Homo sapiens: one gene and its partner. The protein of the gene in region 1 purifies or fractionates together with the protein of each later gene. This does not show direct contact. Each region holds a gene or a part of one and is shown on either strand. Other genes may lie near its edges.

Region 1 (7,151 bases):
ATGCCTATCTGTGAATTAGAGAAAGGCACTCAGCCTTGTGGAAGAATGTAGATCTTGGCATGTAGATCAACGGCTACATTTCAGCCTCCACTCACCCTTTCAGCCAGTGCCTTTGTGCAATGAAGAACCTCCACAACTGTACATGGCAGTGCTAGTGGCAGGTCTGAGTGTGATGCATGTCACCCCATCTTTATATTTCATTGTCCCCAGGGCCTAAAGGCCAACATGACACGTCTTTACCAACTGATGTCAGAACCACAGTTTTCCCGCTGCTCCAAACCTGCCAAATATAAGAAGCTGCTGTTTTCACTCTGTTTCTTCCACTCTGTGTTACTTGAACGCAAAAAGTTCCTGCAGCTTGGCTGGAACATCATCTATGGCTTCAATGACTCCGACTTTGAGGTTTGCATTAGCCAGGGGTCCTCATCCCAGCCCTCTCTCCTTACACGTCCTACCCCATGGCTCCCCTGTGGGAATATCCGTGGACACAAAGCCTGTGTTGAAGCCCCATTGGCAGATTTCCTGCCATAACTCTGGGAATGGGGGCTTGGGCTGGGATCATGCCTAGGTGTCAGAAAACTTGCTGAGCCTCTATCTCGATGAGTACGAGGAGACACCTTGGGACGCACTTAAGTACCTCATTGCCGGCATCAACTATGGTGGACATGTCACAGATGACTGGGACCGGCGCCTGCTGACCACCTACATCAATGATTATTTCTGTGACCAGTCTCTATCAACTCCCTTCCACCGGTGAGGGGGAGGTGGCCCTGGACAGGGAGCCAGAGGTCACAAGTCAGCCAGGTGGTGGGATCAGGGGTGGGGGTAATGTTTGAGGAGAGGACGTGAGATTGGAAGAAGACAGAGTTTGTGGGATTGAGATGGGGAGCAGGGCAGGGAGCTGGACAAATTGGACATGCATAGGTTTGGGGTCTTGGCCTGGCATTGAGGGCTGAGTCCCCACAATGTGGCAGTAATTATGCTATGACTCCCTAGGTTGTCAGCACTGGAGACTTATTTCATCCCCAAGGATGGCAGCCTCGCTTCTTACAAGGAATACATCAGCTTATTGCCTGGCATGGACCCCCCTGAGGCCTTTGGCCAGCACCCCAATGCTGATGTGGCCTCTCAGATCACTGAGGCACAAACCCTCTTTGATACTTTGCTTTCCTTGCAACCTCAGATTACACCCACCAGGGCTGGAGGCCAGACCCGGGAAGAGAAGGTAAAAAGAGCCGGGCCTGGGGGAGGGAAAGTGATGAGAAGAGGGGGCTACACTCAAGAGCTCCTGCCTGCTCAGGTCCTTGAGTTGGCCGCTGATGTGAAGCAGAAGATCCCTGAAATGATCGACTATGAGGGGACTCAAAAACTGCTAGCTCTCGACCCCTCCCCCCTCAATGTGGTCCTTCTGCAGGAGATCCAGAGATACAACACACTGATGCAGACCATCCTGTAAGACAGAGGGGGACTCTGCGGAACAGGGGAGGGTGTGAGGAGAAGCCTTTGCCTTCTGGCTAGAATGACGTTCCCAGGCCCACCTCATCTCTAACACTCCACCTCATCCTGCTCAGGTTCTCACTGACAGACCTAGAGAAAGGCATCCAGGGTCTCATCGTCATGTCTACAAGCCTGGAAGAGATTTTCAATTGCATCTTTGATGCCCATGTTCCTCCGCTCTGGGGAAAGGCAAGATTATACCATTGTTGATCCTTCTCCAACAATGAGCTCCCCTCTCAATCCTGGGCCCCCCAATCTCCTGGTTCTAGGTGGGCATAAAGCAAACTGCAGAGAGCCGAAACTTTGAAGTTAGATAGGTTCAAGGTTAAAACCTGGCTCTGCCATTCATTGACTGACTTCATACAACTTATTAACTTACAGACTCACTCAGGGAAAATTACTAACCTCTCCAAGGATGTTTCAGAGATTCCCAGTATTGTGCCTACCACTCAGTAGGTGCTTCATCAATGCTACCTGGTTAATATTACTGCGGTCATTGTTATGAATGAATAGCTGTCGTTGTATGCCTCTTTCCTAGAAGTTGGCTTTGGAGAGCTTTGTTCACCTGTAGTTGGGGAACAGGGGCTGCCACCACATAGTCTTCTCATATCTGCTTCAGGTGCTCAAAATAAGGATTTGGGCTGGACGCGGTGGCTCATGCCTGCAATCTCAGCACTTTGGGAGGCTGAGGCGGGCAGATCACCTGAGTTTAGGAGTTTGAGACCAGCCTGGTCAACATGGTGAAACCCCGTCTCTACTAAAAAAATACAAAAATTAGCCGGGCGTGATGGTGGGCGCCTGTAATCCCAGCTACTTGGGAGGCTGAGGCAGGAGAATAGCTTAACTTGGGAGGTGGAGGTTGCAGTGAGCCAAGATCGTACCACTGCACTCCAGCCTGGGGGACAAGAGCAAAACTCTGTCTCTAAATAAATAAATAATACGGATTTGAATGCACGGCTAAATGAGTGAATACACACGCACTCCTTCCCCAGGCATACCCCTCACAAAAGCCATTGGCTGCCTGGACCCGGGACTTGGCCATGCGTGTGGAGCAGTTTGAGCTGTGGGCCAGCCGGGCCCGGCCTCCTGTGATCTTCTGGTTGTCTGGTTTCACCTTTCCCACTGGCTTCCTCACTGCTGTGCTGCAGTCTTCAGCTCGCCAAAACAACGTGAGCAATGTGCAAAGTGTGAGGGGGGGATGTATGCTGGGGCCATGTATGTGTTCTCCTCTTCAGGGTCCTCTCTTATTCTCACCTTCAACCCCCAGGTTTCAGTGGACAGCCTCTCCTGGGAGTTTATCGTTTCCACTGTGGATGACAGCAACCTAGTGTATCCCCCCAAGGTGGGAGCCAGTTGTGCTTGGGGCTCTGAGCAAAAGAGGGTACTGGAAATAATTGGACGAAAAGGGAGGAGAGAGGGAGCAGGTCAGGGGCGCTGGCAATTGAAGTCTAGCTTCTCCCAGACCTGCTCCCATTTCTCCCCAGGATGGTGTCTGGGTCCGGGGCCTGTACCTGGAAGGTGCTGGCTGGGACCGGAAGAACTCCTGCTTGGTGGAGGCAGAGCCCATGCAGCTTGTCTGCCTCATGCCCACGATCCACTTCCGGCCTGCAGAGAGCCGCAAGAAGAGCGCCAAGGGTGGGACAGCTCCCCAGGCAGGACCTGCCTGCCCCGTCCCTAGTTTGGAACTTAACCCATTCTCTGCTCCAGCCCATCCCACACCCGCTCCTGCCCTGCTCCTGCCCTGCTCTCCCGGAGGCTCCAGGGGTCTGACTTCTCCTCTCCTTTCCCCCAGGCATGTACTCCTGCCCCTGCTATTACTATCCCAACCGGGCAGGCAGCTCAGACCGAGCCTCCTTTGTCATCGGCATTGACCTGCGGTCTGGGGCCATGACACCTGATCATTGGATCAAGAGGGGCACTGCTCTACTCATGAGCCTGGACAGCTGAGACCTCCTCCTCTTCTCCGCTTGAGAGAGAGGGTCAGGGACTCCAGGAGCTAAGACAGATGTTGCACCTAGGACTGAGGCCGGACCTCACTCAGACTTTGACCTTGGCCGAATTTGTGTGATGTGGCCCTGGAGATACCTAGTTGTGTTAGCCATAAAAGTGAAAGAGTTGTATTGGAGCTCAGTGCTGTAAAACACCCGCGACAACAAGCCTTAAGTCTCTCAATGCAATGGTGAGGGTCTGGGGAGGGAGGAAGCCCAGGCCTCACGGAGGACAGAGCTACTGCGGAGCTGCTACTGGACGGGGAAAGAAGCGAGGGAGGTGGGGCGGCCTGGAGCGGAACGGAGGCGTGGCCCTGAACGAATGGGCAGGGCGGAGCCGCCTGAAGAGGCTGTGGCTTAAGTCTCCGGGCAGGACTTCAGTGGGTGGGGCGGGGCTTACCTTAGAAGGGCGCGTGATCCAAATGAGTAGGGATTTGTCAGGCAGGGATCAGGGCTGAACCCCGTACACTGCACCCTGAGGCCCGCACCCTGAAGCCCGCACCCCGCACCCGGCATCCTAGCCGGCACCCGCCCTGAGGCGAGCGGGACCGGCAGAAGACGGGGCGGAGCCGGAGAGGGGGACTAGAGCGCGAGGAGGGGCGGGACCACAAGGGGGCGGGGCTGGGGAGCGGGGGTGCGGGTGTTTGTGTTGGAAAATCCAACTGCGCCACTGGGCGGAGCGGCCCCCCCAGCCCCGGCCTGGGAGAAGGGGGGGCCGCTCGACCCCCTGGGATACCTTGGGGAGCCTGAACACCTGGGACCCCCCCCAGAACCAGGTAACGGGGAGCCGCGAGGACGTCTGTAAAGAGGGAAACCCTCTCCTTGCAGCAGGGCAGGACGCCTGAGTCTCTGGAGGGGTAGAGCTGGGGATGGACGTTTGGGTCTTGGGAAGGGCACTGGGAAGAAGACTGGGGCGGAGGTCATGGGTCCCCTAGAAGAGAGAACGGCGGGGAAGGAGGAAGAACTGGGAGGCAGATGTCTCAGGTTCCAAATGTCCAGAGGGGCCTGAAAGGACTCCCCGTTCCCCTTGGGCTGGGATTCCCCTTCCCGACTCCAGGGCGGGGCGGGGCGGGGCGCGGCGGTCCTTACTGAAGGGCAGGACTAAAGGGCAGAGTTTGCAGACAGGTCAATGCCATGGCCCAGTAAGGTCAGATGTGGTCAGACTTGGGTGTGTCCCGGTCCCAGGACTACTTTAAGTCTCCCTCCAGTTCTCTGCACGGGTGAGGTGTAGAAGCCTCAGCCTGACCTTCCCACCAGCGGCCCCGAGAGCTTCCCAGCGGTAGCCTTCGCCTTCTTCCCACCACCCCCCTGCGCCTCCCTTTCACTCCGTCTCGCCCCGCTAGCCTCCTCATCCCTAGTCCTTCTCCCACTCCGCCGTTCCCGAACCCTAGCGCGCCCCGCACGGCTTCTCGGTGCGGAGCCTTCCCAACGTAGCCACAAGATGGCGAGGGCGAGACGCACCCAGGGCAGGTGGGGGATGTGACCGTGAAAGTAGCTGAAGCCCCCCGCCCCGGTCCGAGGGAAAGGTAGGCTGAGGCCCCCACTTGACTTCCTGTGATCTGGGCCCCCTCACAGGAAATTGTGGGCAGGAGGTCGCAGCGCAGAAGACGGGGAGGGGGCTGGGGACTCAATCTCCGCCTCTCCCGGCTGGGGTAAATAGTGGGGAGGGGGGCACGCGGGGTGGTTGCTAAGCGACGTAGATTCGCTTCCTGTTTGCTGCAGCTTATGTTGTGACACTGGTGGGGGTTAGAGACAGCGGAGGGCCTGAAGACTGTGGGGAAGGCCGAGGGCAGGACGCCTGGTTCCCGGGACAGGAAGAGCCCTGGGAGGAAGGCGGGGAGGTAGCGAGCTGCGCCGCGACCGAAGGGGACTCGGTGGTTGTCCGGAGGGGGTTAGGGACCGAGGCGCAGCGTTGACCTCGGCTCCCCTTCCCTCCCCTGGGTTGCTTGTCCTGTTGCCAGAGTAACTGGAGGGCGAGACTTGGGAGCCGGATTCCCGAACTCTCCCGTCCGCCCAATCCGCTCCAGCGGTCGGCCCTGACGTCAGGGCCCTGGCAGCCAATGGGGAAGGGGGATGATAGCGACAGGAAAGGGAGAGGGGAGGGGCAGCGGCGGAGGCTGGGAGGCAGCAGCTGCCTGGGACCCGCACGTGCACTCCCACACGCTCGCGCCCACCCCCCGCCCTGCGCCGCACGCGCCCGAGCACCCCCTTGCGCCTGCGCGGCGAGCCGGGCGCCCCCCTCCCCTCGTGGAGTCTGTGTAAAGCCGCCTGAGGCTGCGCTCTTCAGCCCCTGGGGACCCACACGTCTCGGTCGGTCTGCACCGTTTCGCCGGTCGCGACCATAATGCCCAGCCTGGCTCGGGAGGGCCGACTACCTGTTCCCCACCTCCCCCCAGCTGGCGCCCCACACTCCCAGGTGGGCTGGGCGGAGCTGTGGTTTCCGGCCCCATCTGCTCGGCCGCTGCCTTCCCGGGCTCTGGCTTAAGTTGCTTTCCCAAGAGAAAGCGAGCGGGTACCAGCGCCCCTTCCCAAGGCTTCTCCCGCCCGGGCCCAGCTGCTGTTGGTGGCGGAGGAGGGCACTGCGGGGAAGCCCCGGACGGCCCAGGTGATTCTTCTGGGCCATCACGCCCCTTCTTCGCGTGAATTCCTGCTCTTTGATGTGCACCAAAACCCTTCCCATTCCTAACGTTTCCTCCTCGTTCGCCCCGGCGTTCTTTGCACCTCCCTCGGCTCCTTTCGGGCTGTCTGTCCCTGTCTCCACTCGTCCTTCTTCGCTTCTCCCGGTTATATAACTCTTCCTCTCGCCGTGTCCTGGTTTCAACTCCACAGACTCCGCCCTGGAACAGCGCGGGGAGGGGCGGGAGAGTTGGGGACCCAGACAGATTCCGGCTGGCGGCCGGCTGGGGCACGGGGGATCCTGCAGATGGAAGACGGAGCCCCGCGGGACCCGGTGCCCCCGTCCCCGCCTGCCGGCCCCCACCGAGATCTCGCCCAGGAGAGAGAAGGCACAGTATCTCCGAGGGGCGTGTCGGGCCGACTCCCGTCAGAAATGTGGGTTGGGAGGTCAGGGCTGCAGGCGGAGAGGAGGAGACAGGCAAGAGGCCTGAGTCCCTGGGATTGGAGTCGTATTAGGGGTAAAAGAGATAAGGACGCCTGGGTTTCTTCTTATGTCTCCTTTTTGGGTTCCCAGAATTCCTAAGGGTGTTTCCAGTGTTTCCAGGAAGCTTAGCCAGCACACCCACTCCGCCCCGTAGGGGTCAAAGGTCTGTGTTAGAGGTGGCCTGGGATGATGTCACTAGTGCACGTGCCCCGGGATGGTTGCCAGGCAATGAGGCTTCCTCCCCCTTCTATTCCCTCCCACCTCTGCCCCGAGTCCAGTTCCAGTCCCGTGCCATCTCTTTCCCCTCTCCCTTCCCGTGGTCTTAGCATCCTGCAGGTGGGAAACCCCGGCCTGGAGTTTTGTGAGGGGGAGGGGCACGGGTGTGGTGTGGCTGAAAGACTTTGCCCCTTTGCTGGGCTGAGGGAGCCTTGGGTCACTTTTCCCTAGATTGGCACAGAAGAGCTTCCCCTCCAAGGCTCCGCCCCCATAGAAAAAGCTACCTAGCCGTCATTTTACTTTCCCACCTGCTGCATGGCCAAGTGTCCTATTGCCCCCTTCCCCAGATT
Region 2 (7,024 bases), on another chromosome or scaffold:
CTTTGGCCCCCCCAGATATAGGTGAAGCCCTGGTCTCTGAGCTCCACAGTGCTCGGTTGTTGGGGGACTCTGAACTCGGCCTTCCCGGCTGCAGTGGAGGGGCCGGCAGGCTCCACCACGTGGGGCACCTCTCCTGTCCTGGGCTCCACCCATACTTCTGCACTGGGGACCCTCAGGCGGGTGGCCGGCCCCCGGCCTCTCTCTTCCATGACCCAGCCTGCCTTCCGGGCCACCACTTAGCCACCTCCCATGACACCTATGCAGTATGTGGACCCTGGGTTGGGAGTTCCTCCAGCTGAGTCCCTCACCCCAGGAGGGTCTGGCTGAGAAAAGTACGCACAGGGAAGAGCTCCCCCAGCAGCCAGGAGTTCCCGAGGCCCTCCTCCCCCAGGCCTGATGAGAAGCTGCATACACATGCTGTGTCCTTCCATCTCCCCACGCACTCTTGTGCCCATTAGCAGACAAAGGAGCAGGCCAGGCCGTGAGTCACCTCCCCTGGGCCACAGAGTTGGCAGGCACCATGTGCACGCACACCCAAGGGCCGAGCTCTTCACCACAGCCCCATAGGTATTGCCTTGCAGGGTCAAGCCAGGCATGTGCCTCCCTTTCAGCCTGTTCAGACTTTGACACTTGCCTCTGAGGGAGTCCCTCCTTGTCGGCCCTGGAACACACTAGGGACACCCCACTGAAGACAGACCCCACAAAGCACTCAGAACAGCCTTAGGTGCTCACACAGCCTTGGGGGTCTGTGCCGTGAGCCTTGGCTGCTGGTTCTATGCTCCATTAAGTTTAGATAGTGTCCACTGCAGGCACCATTCAGTTTAGATGACATATATACTACAGGCCAACTGGAGCTGTGTACCCAAAGCAATTAGCGTTGATAAGATAATTTGGTTAATTTAGCTCAAAACTGACACAGGCAGTTTCACTGACGTGGGGAGGTTTGGTTGAGTTTGCTAACAGAGCACGAAGGCAGGTACCGTAAAACTGATGGGTTTGGCAGCAAAGGTCACTGCTCTCTTTCCTTTTTAGCAACTGCACACGCTTGAGAAGGACCTGGTGTCGGCCTGTGACCTCCTGGGTGTAGGGGCCGAGTACGCCCGGGTGGTGGGATCTGAATACACACGGTAGGCACCCACTCCCCTCCTTCCCTCCTGCTCTGTTAACAGGAGGGGCTTGGCCATCTTGGTCCAGGACAAATAACAGAAATGGCATTTCAGGTGAAGTACAGTAGCTCACAGTATATTCCCAGCACTTTGGAAGGCCAAGGTAGGAGGATCACTTGAGCCCAGGAGTTCAAGACCAGCCTGGGGAACATAGTGAAACCCCATCTCCACAAAAAATACAAAAATTGGGTCCGGGCACAGTGGCTTACGCCTGTAATCCCAGCACTTTGAGAGGCTAACGTGGGAGGATCACGAGGTCAAGAGATTGAGCCCACCCTGGCCAACATGGTGAAACCTGTTTCTACTAAAAATACAAAAATTAGCTGGGCGTGGTGGTGGGTACCTGTAATCCCAGGTACTCGGGAGGCTGAGGCAGGAGACTAGCTTGAACCCGGGAGGCAGAGGTTGCAGTGAGCCAAGATCATGCCACTGTACTCCAGCCTGGCGACAGAGCGAGACTCCGTCTCAAAAAAAAAAAAATTAGTCACCATGAGGCGCGGGTTTGAGCCTGAGTTCAGGCACCCAAGCCTGCCCACTGGCCCCAACGCTGTGTGTCCACCGCCGCGTTTTTTTTTGTTGTTTTTTTTTTGTAGAGATAGGGTCTCACCATGTTGCCTAGGCTGGTCTCAAACTTCTGACCTCAAGTGATCTGCCCACCTTGGTCTCCCAAAGTGCTGGGATTATAGGCATGAGCCATTGCACCCAACCGCCTTCTGGGCTTTTCACGTGAGTGCGTCTAAGCCATGTAAGAAAAATAAATACAGGCCAGGCACAGTGGCTGACACCTGAAATCCCAGCACTTTGGGAGGCCGAGGCAGGTGGATCACATGAGGTCAGGAGTTTGAGACCAGCCTGGCCAACATGGTGAAACCCCGTCTCTACTAAAAATATAAAAATTAGCCAGGCATGGCCGGGCGCAGTGGCTCACACCTGTAATCCCAGCACTTTGGGAGGCCAAGGTGGGCAGATCACGAGGTCAGGAGATCAAGACCATCCTGTGAATGGTGAAACCCCGTCTCTACTAAAAATACAAAAAATTAGCTGGGCATGGTGGCGGGCGCCTGTAGTCCCAGCTACTCAGGAGGCTGAGGCGGGAGAATGGCATGAACCCAGGACGCGGAGGTTGCAGTGAGCTGAGATCGCGCCACTGCACTCCAGCCTGGGCGACAGAGCGAGACTCCATCTCAAAAAAAAAAAAAAAAAAATTAACCAGGCATGGTGCCAGGTGCCTGTAGTCCCAGGTGCTCAGGAGGCTGAGGCAGGAGAATCGCTTGAACCCGGGAAGCATAGGTTGCAGTGAATCGAGATCACACCATTGCACTCCAGCCTGGGCAACAGAGTGAGACTCTAAGAAAAAAATAATAAAAAAAATAAAAACAGGCCGGGCGCGGTGGCTCACACCTGTAATCCCAGCACTTTGGGAGGCCGAGGCGGGTGGATCACGAGGTCAGGAGATCGAGACCATCCTGGCTAACACGGTGAAATTCTGTCTCTACTAAAAATACAAAAAATTAGCCGGGCGTGGTGGCGGGCGCCTGTAGTCCCAGCTACTCAGGAGGCTGAGGCAGGAGAATGGCGTGAACCTGGGAGGCTGAGCTTGCAGTGAGCTGAGACCGCACCACTGCACTCCAGCCTGGGCGACAGAGCGAGACTCCGTCTCAAAAAAATAAATAAATAAATAAAAATAAAAATAAACACAGACACAATAGGATAAAACAGAGCAGTCTTGTAAGGGGACTGTTCTCTGTTGTCCACTGAACTGTCCCCTGAGGTGGCATATTAGGTCCTGTGAGCCTTGGGGTAATCACAGTCATCCCAGGAGGCTCCTGGGCCTGCTAGGACCTGACCCCTGCCTCTTGTTTTGCAGGGCGCTGTTCCTCCTCAGCAAGGGGATGGTAAGTTGAGGCTGGGCATGGCTGGATGCAGCTGGTGTTGTGGAGGTGAGGCAGGGCCCCCACAGAGTCTGCTCAGACCCCACCCACTCTCCATGGCATGGCCCCTTAGGCGCCCAGACCCTTAGGCACAGTGAGCAGCCTGGAATGTGAGGCCCGGGCCCTGCTGGGTTCAGGAGGGAAACTCAGGCTGCACCCTATGGGATTCATGCTGAGGCAAGAGCCTGGTTAGGAGCTGCCTGGGCTGGGGTTTCAGGCTGGCCTTGCCCTCTGGATTGGTGGCAGCAGTCCCAGGGCAGGTGGGCAGGTGACCCTGTGCTCCCGGTCCTGGGAGGGCCCCTGCAAGCCCTGTACCCTACACCTGCGCCTCTCCCTCCCCAGCTGCTGCTGATGGAGCGAAAGCTGCAGGAGGTGCACCCGCTGCTGACCCTCTGCGGGCAGATCGTGGAGAACTGGCAGGGGAACCCCATCCAGAAGGAGTCGCTGCGTGTCTTCTTCCTGGTGCTCCAGGTCACCCACTATCTGGATGCCGGGCAGGTGTGTGGCGCCTCTCAGGCGAGCTGCTGGTTGTGACCAGTGGGTATGGGTGGTACCCAGGCCAATGGGTCTTGGGCTGTGAGGTCAGCTGTGTCATCGCCTTACCTTGCCACACAACAGGGCTGTCATACCAGTCCCGGACACACACACTCCTGTCCTGCTCTGCCACGAGTGCTGGTATCTGGGAACAGGGTCTGTCCTGGCCACCCCACCTCCCTTTGGGAGTACTATGTGTGACATTGCATACACTCGCTCAGTGTATGGATGCTCAGAGATTCCAATGGCAGTTCAGGGAATCATGAGAATAAACCACAGAGGTGCTGGGATGGCACCTGCACACAGCAGATGCCCAGGTGCTGTCTGTCTGGCCCCCGGCTGTGGGGTTGAGTAGGGACTGATGTGCTCAGCCATGTCCGAGACTGGACTCATGACCCTGCCGTGGGTGGGGAGCGGCTGTGTTTGAGCTCCTTGTCTCTGTGCTTGTGTGACAGTCTCAGCCCTTCGGGGGCTGGGGGCTGCCCTGTGCCACTCAGACCCACCCCTGTCGCAGTGGGCCACAGGCGAGTCTCCACAGGGCTTGGTAAGGGGGTTGCCCAGTTCGTCCATCCATACCCATCGTTGCCCATTGGGTGAAGCACTGCACTCGGCGCATAGGGACACAGAGCAGACTGCAGCCACGCTTCCCTCAGGGTGCAAGGGCTGCAGAGACATCCCTCGGGGCCTCAGGGCGAGATGGACCACAGCGCCTGCCTGATTCCTGGGCCAGGAAGCCACCTCCCACCCCCTCAGAGCACAGCCTCCCCCTGCCGTCTCAGGTCTGGCTGCGTGAAGACCAAGTGCAGCTCCAGCAGGGTCTGGATAGGCCTCTCCTGGGCCTTGGTGTTGGACCCAACACTGGGCAGTGGACAAGCCTCAGTCCCACAGCTGCCCGCCTGGCTGTGCCCCATGCCCCAAAAGCCTGGCTGATTCATGGGAGTGCGGCAGGGGCGGCTTCATCTTGCAGGAGGTGGCCCTGGCAGAAGGGGAAGGCAGATGCTCCCTAGAGGAAGGAGCAGGGGTGGCTGGGCTGGGCCTGGCTTCCTGAGAGGCCAGGCTCAGGTGGATGCTCGGGTGTGGGTGCTGCACAGGTGAAGAGCGTGAAGCCGTGTCTGAAGCAGCTGCAGCAGTGCATCCAGACCATCTCCACACTGCACGATGATGAGATCCTGCCCAGCAACCCCGCTGACCTCTTCCACTGGCTGCCCAAGGAGCACATGTGTGTGCTTGTCTACCTGGTGCGTCCCCACCAGGGCCCGGGCCAGGGCTGGGGGCGGGGGCAGGGAGAGGGAGAGGGCCCTGGTAACCCCTGCTGTCTGGTCTTGTCGCTAGGTGACTGTGATGCACTCCATGCAGGCCGGCTACCTGGAGAAGGCGCAGAAGTACACGGACAAGGCCCTCATGCAGCTGGAGAAGCTCAAGAGTAAGTCAGGTGCTCGGCTGGCCACATGGCCACAGCGACCCCTGGCGGACGGCCTGGCCAGACGCTAGCTGTACCAGGGCCCAGTGACCCTGTGTGACCGCAGCGCCCAGCCACCCTGCCTGGTGGGTCTCGTCACCCCTAGTTGATAAATGCTGGTGTCCAACGTCAGAGCAGAGCAGACAGGCCTGGGGTCGGGGGTACCTCCCTGACTGGTCAGGTCCCTTGTGCCCAGTCATGCTCAGTTGAAACAGGTGGTAGCTGCTTTTCCCAATTATTATCAGTGTTGTGACAGGGACACTCGGGATGAGGCCAGGATCAGAACTCAGCCCTCACTGACCACCAGCATGTCCTTTGGAGGTCGTGAGTTCTTTCCAGATGCTCAAGTGTCTAATCCATCCAGGGACCTTTGACTAGCACAAACCCAGAGCAGACGTCCCTGGCTGGTATAGTGTGCCCATTAGTCGGTCTGTTTGCTCCCTCGTGAGTGCTGCTGGGGGAGAAGGCATCAGAGCCAAGGCAGCCCAAAGCCGGATAGGCCCTGTGCTTCTCTTATTCCCATATGAGGATGGTTGCTTGGGGCTGTTGGGAGGTGGGGCCCAGCCCAGGTCCCCCTACCCGACTGCCTGAGGCTCTGCTGCATGGTGTCATGATCCAGGGTGGTTTCCACATTTCTACATTTCTAGAACCTGCCATGTCCACAAGCTCTTGAGCACGTAGGGTGAGGGTGAGGGTGAGAGCCAACCCTTCTTGGAGCACTGTGGGAACCAACCTCTGGCTCCAGCTCCGTCTCCCCACCTGGACAGCAAGACACACTCCTTCACTCAGAGGGTGCAGTGGGGACTAGGGGAGATGACGGGGTGGGTGCCTAGCCAGTGTGGCAGGAGACAGGAACGAGGTGGGGGCACGGTGGGCTGGGGGTGGCGCCTCCTCTGGCCTCCCCTGCATGCTTACCCCTGACTCTCACCCATAGTGCTGGACTGCAGCCCCATCCTGTCATCCTTCCAAGTGATCCTGCTGGAGCACATCATCATGTGCCGCCTTGTCACGGGTCACAAGGCCACGGCGCTGCAGGAGGTAAGGCTGGAAGCAGGAGGGGCGGGAAGGCCCAGGAGTTTGTTGGGTCTCAGCAGTGTCAGACAAGAGACTGAATTCGCCAAGTGCATACTGGCAGGCCAGCCCATCCTGCTGTCTCGCTGTCGGCCAGCGTTTTACAGCCCTGCATGGGCACCACTGATCAGAGAATCTCATACAAAAACCAGTGGAGGCCGGGCGCAGTGGCTCACGCCTGTCATCCCAGCAGTTTGGGAGGCCGAGGCGGGTGGATCACTTGAGGCCAGGAGTTTGAGACCAGCCTGGCCAACATGGCGAAACCCCGCCTCTACTAAAAATATAAAAATTAGCCAGGTGTGGTGGCAGACACCTGTAATCCCAGTTACTTGAGAGGCTGAGGCAGGAGAATAGCCTGAACCCAGGAGGCAGAGGTTGCAGTGAGCCGAGATCGCACTACTGCACTCCAACCTGGGCAACAGAGTGAGACTCCATCTCAAAAAAAAAAACCCAAAAAACTAATGGGCCATGGCCCAAAAGCTTGCACACCAAGGGGATAGCGCACATGGTCTCTGGGGATTTGGGGGGTCCTTTGACAGTGATTGTTATACCCCACCCTGCCATTAGGAACACTCTACCCCCAGTACCCACCCTCCTGAGAGGGCATGGGGGCCCTCAGTAGGCTGGAGGTCCTTTACAACCCAGACACCTGTTGGACAGAGTGGAAGAGACGAGTAACAGACAAGGGTCCCTGTCCACGATGGGATCTGGGCTGCCCTTTGCCCTCATGGTGGACGTGTCTGCTGGGGCTTTGTACCCCAGTTTGGTCAGACAGGACATGGGCTCACCCACCAGCTATGGGGTCTCTCCATTGCTGCTCAGACGCCAGGTCCCAGGTTGCAGTCCTGTGATGGCAGTACACT

What was found. Proteins that work in one complex are often made in the same cells at the same time.
Region 2: the proteins of KDM6B (region 1) and MAU2 purify together in Homo sapiens (affinity purification with mass spectrometry; 2 studies listed by BioGRID). This does not show direct contact.

The regions. Positions count from the first base shown.
Region 1 is NC_000017.11:7,830,090-7,837,240, forward strand, and holds the start of KDM6B (lysine-specific demethylase 6B), read left to right. Parts: upstream 1-4,127; 5' UTR 4,128-4,261; intron 4,262-5,318; exon of another isoform or gene 5,319-5,527; coding exon of another isoform or gene 5,528-6,555; intron 6,556-7,151. Other genes in the region: DNAH2 (dynein axonemal heavy chain 2), read left to right, coding at 211-402, 569-753, 997-1,225, 1,301-1,452, 1,572-1,686, 2,490-2,666, 2,765-2,839, 2,982-3,132 and 1 more; translation initiation factor IF-2, read right to left, coding at 5,528-6,555. UniProt on the Homo sapiens protein: Histone demethylase that specifically demethylates 'Lys-27' of histone H3, thereby playing a central role in histone code. Demethylates trimethylated and dimethylated H3 'Lys-27'.
Region 2 is NC_000019.10:19,337,813-19,344,836, forward strand, and holds part of MAU2 (MAU2 chromatid cohesion factor homolog), read left to right. Parts: intron 1-1,032; coding exon 1,033-1,127; intron 1,128-3,033; coding exon 3,034-3,061; intron 3,062-3,439; coding exon 3,440-3,595; intron 3,596-4,722; coding exon 4,723-4,869; intron 4,870-4,963; coding exon 4,964-5,054; intron 5,055-6,024; coding exon 6,025-6,128; intron 6,129-7,024. UniProt on the Homo sapiens protein: Plays an important role in the loading of the cohesin complex on to DNA. Forms a heterodimeric complex (also known as cohesin loading complex) with NIPBL/SCC2 which mediates the loading of the cohesin complex onto chromatin.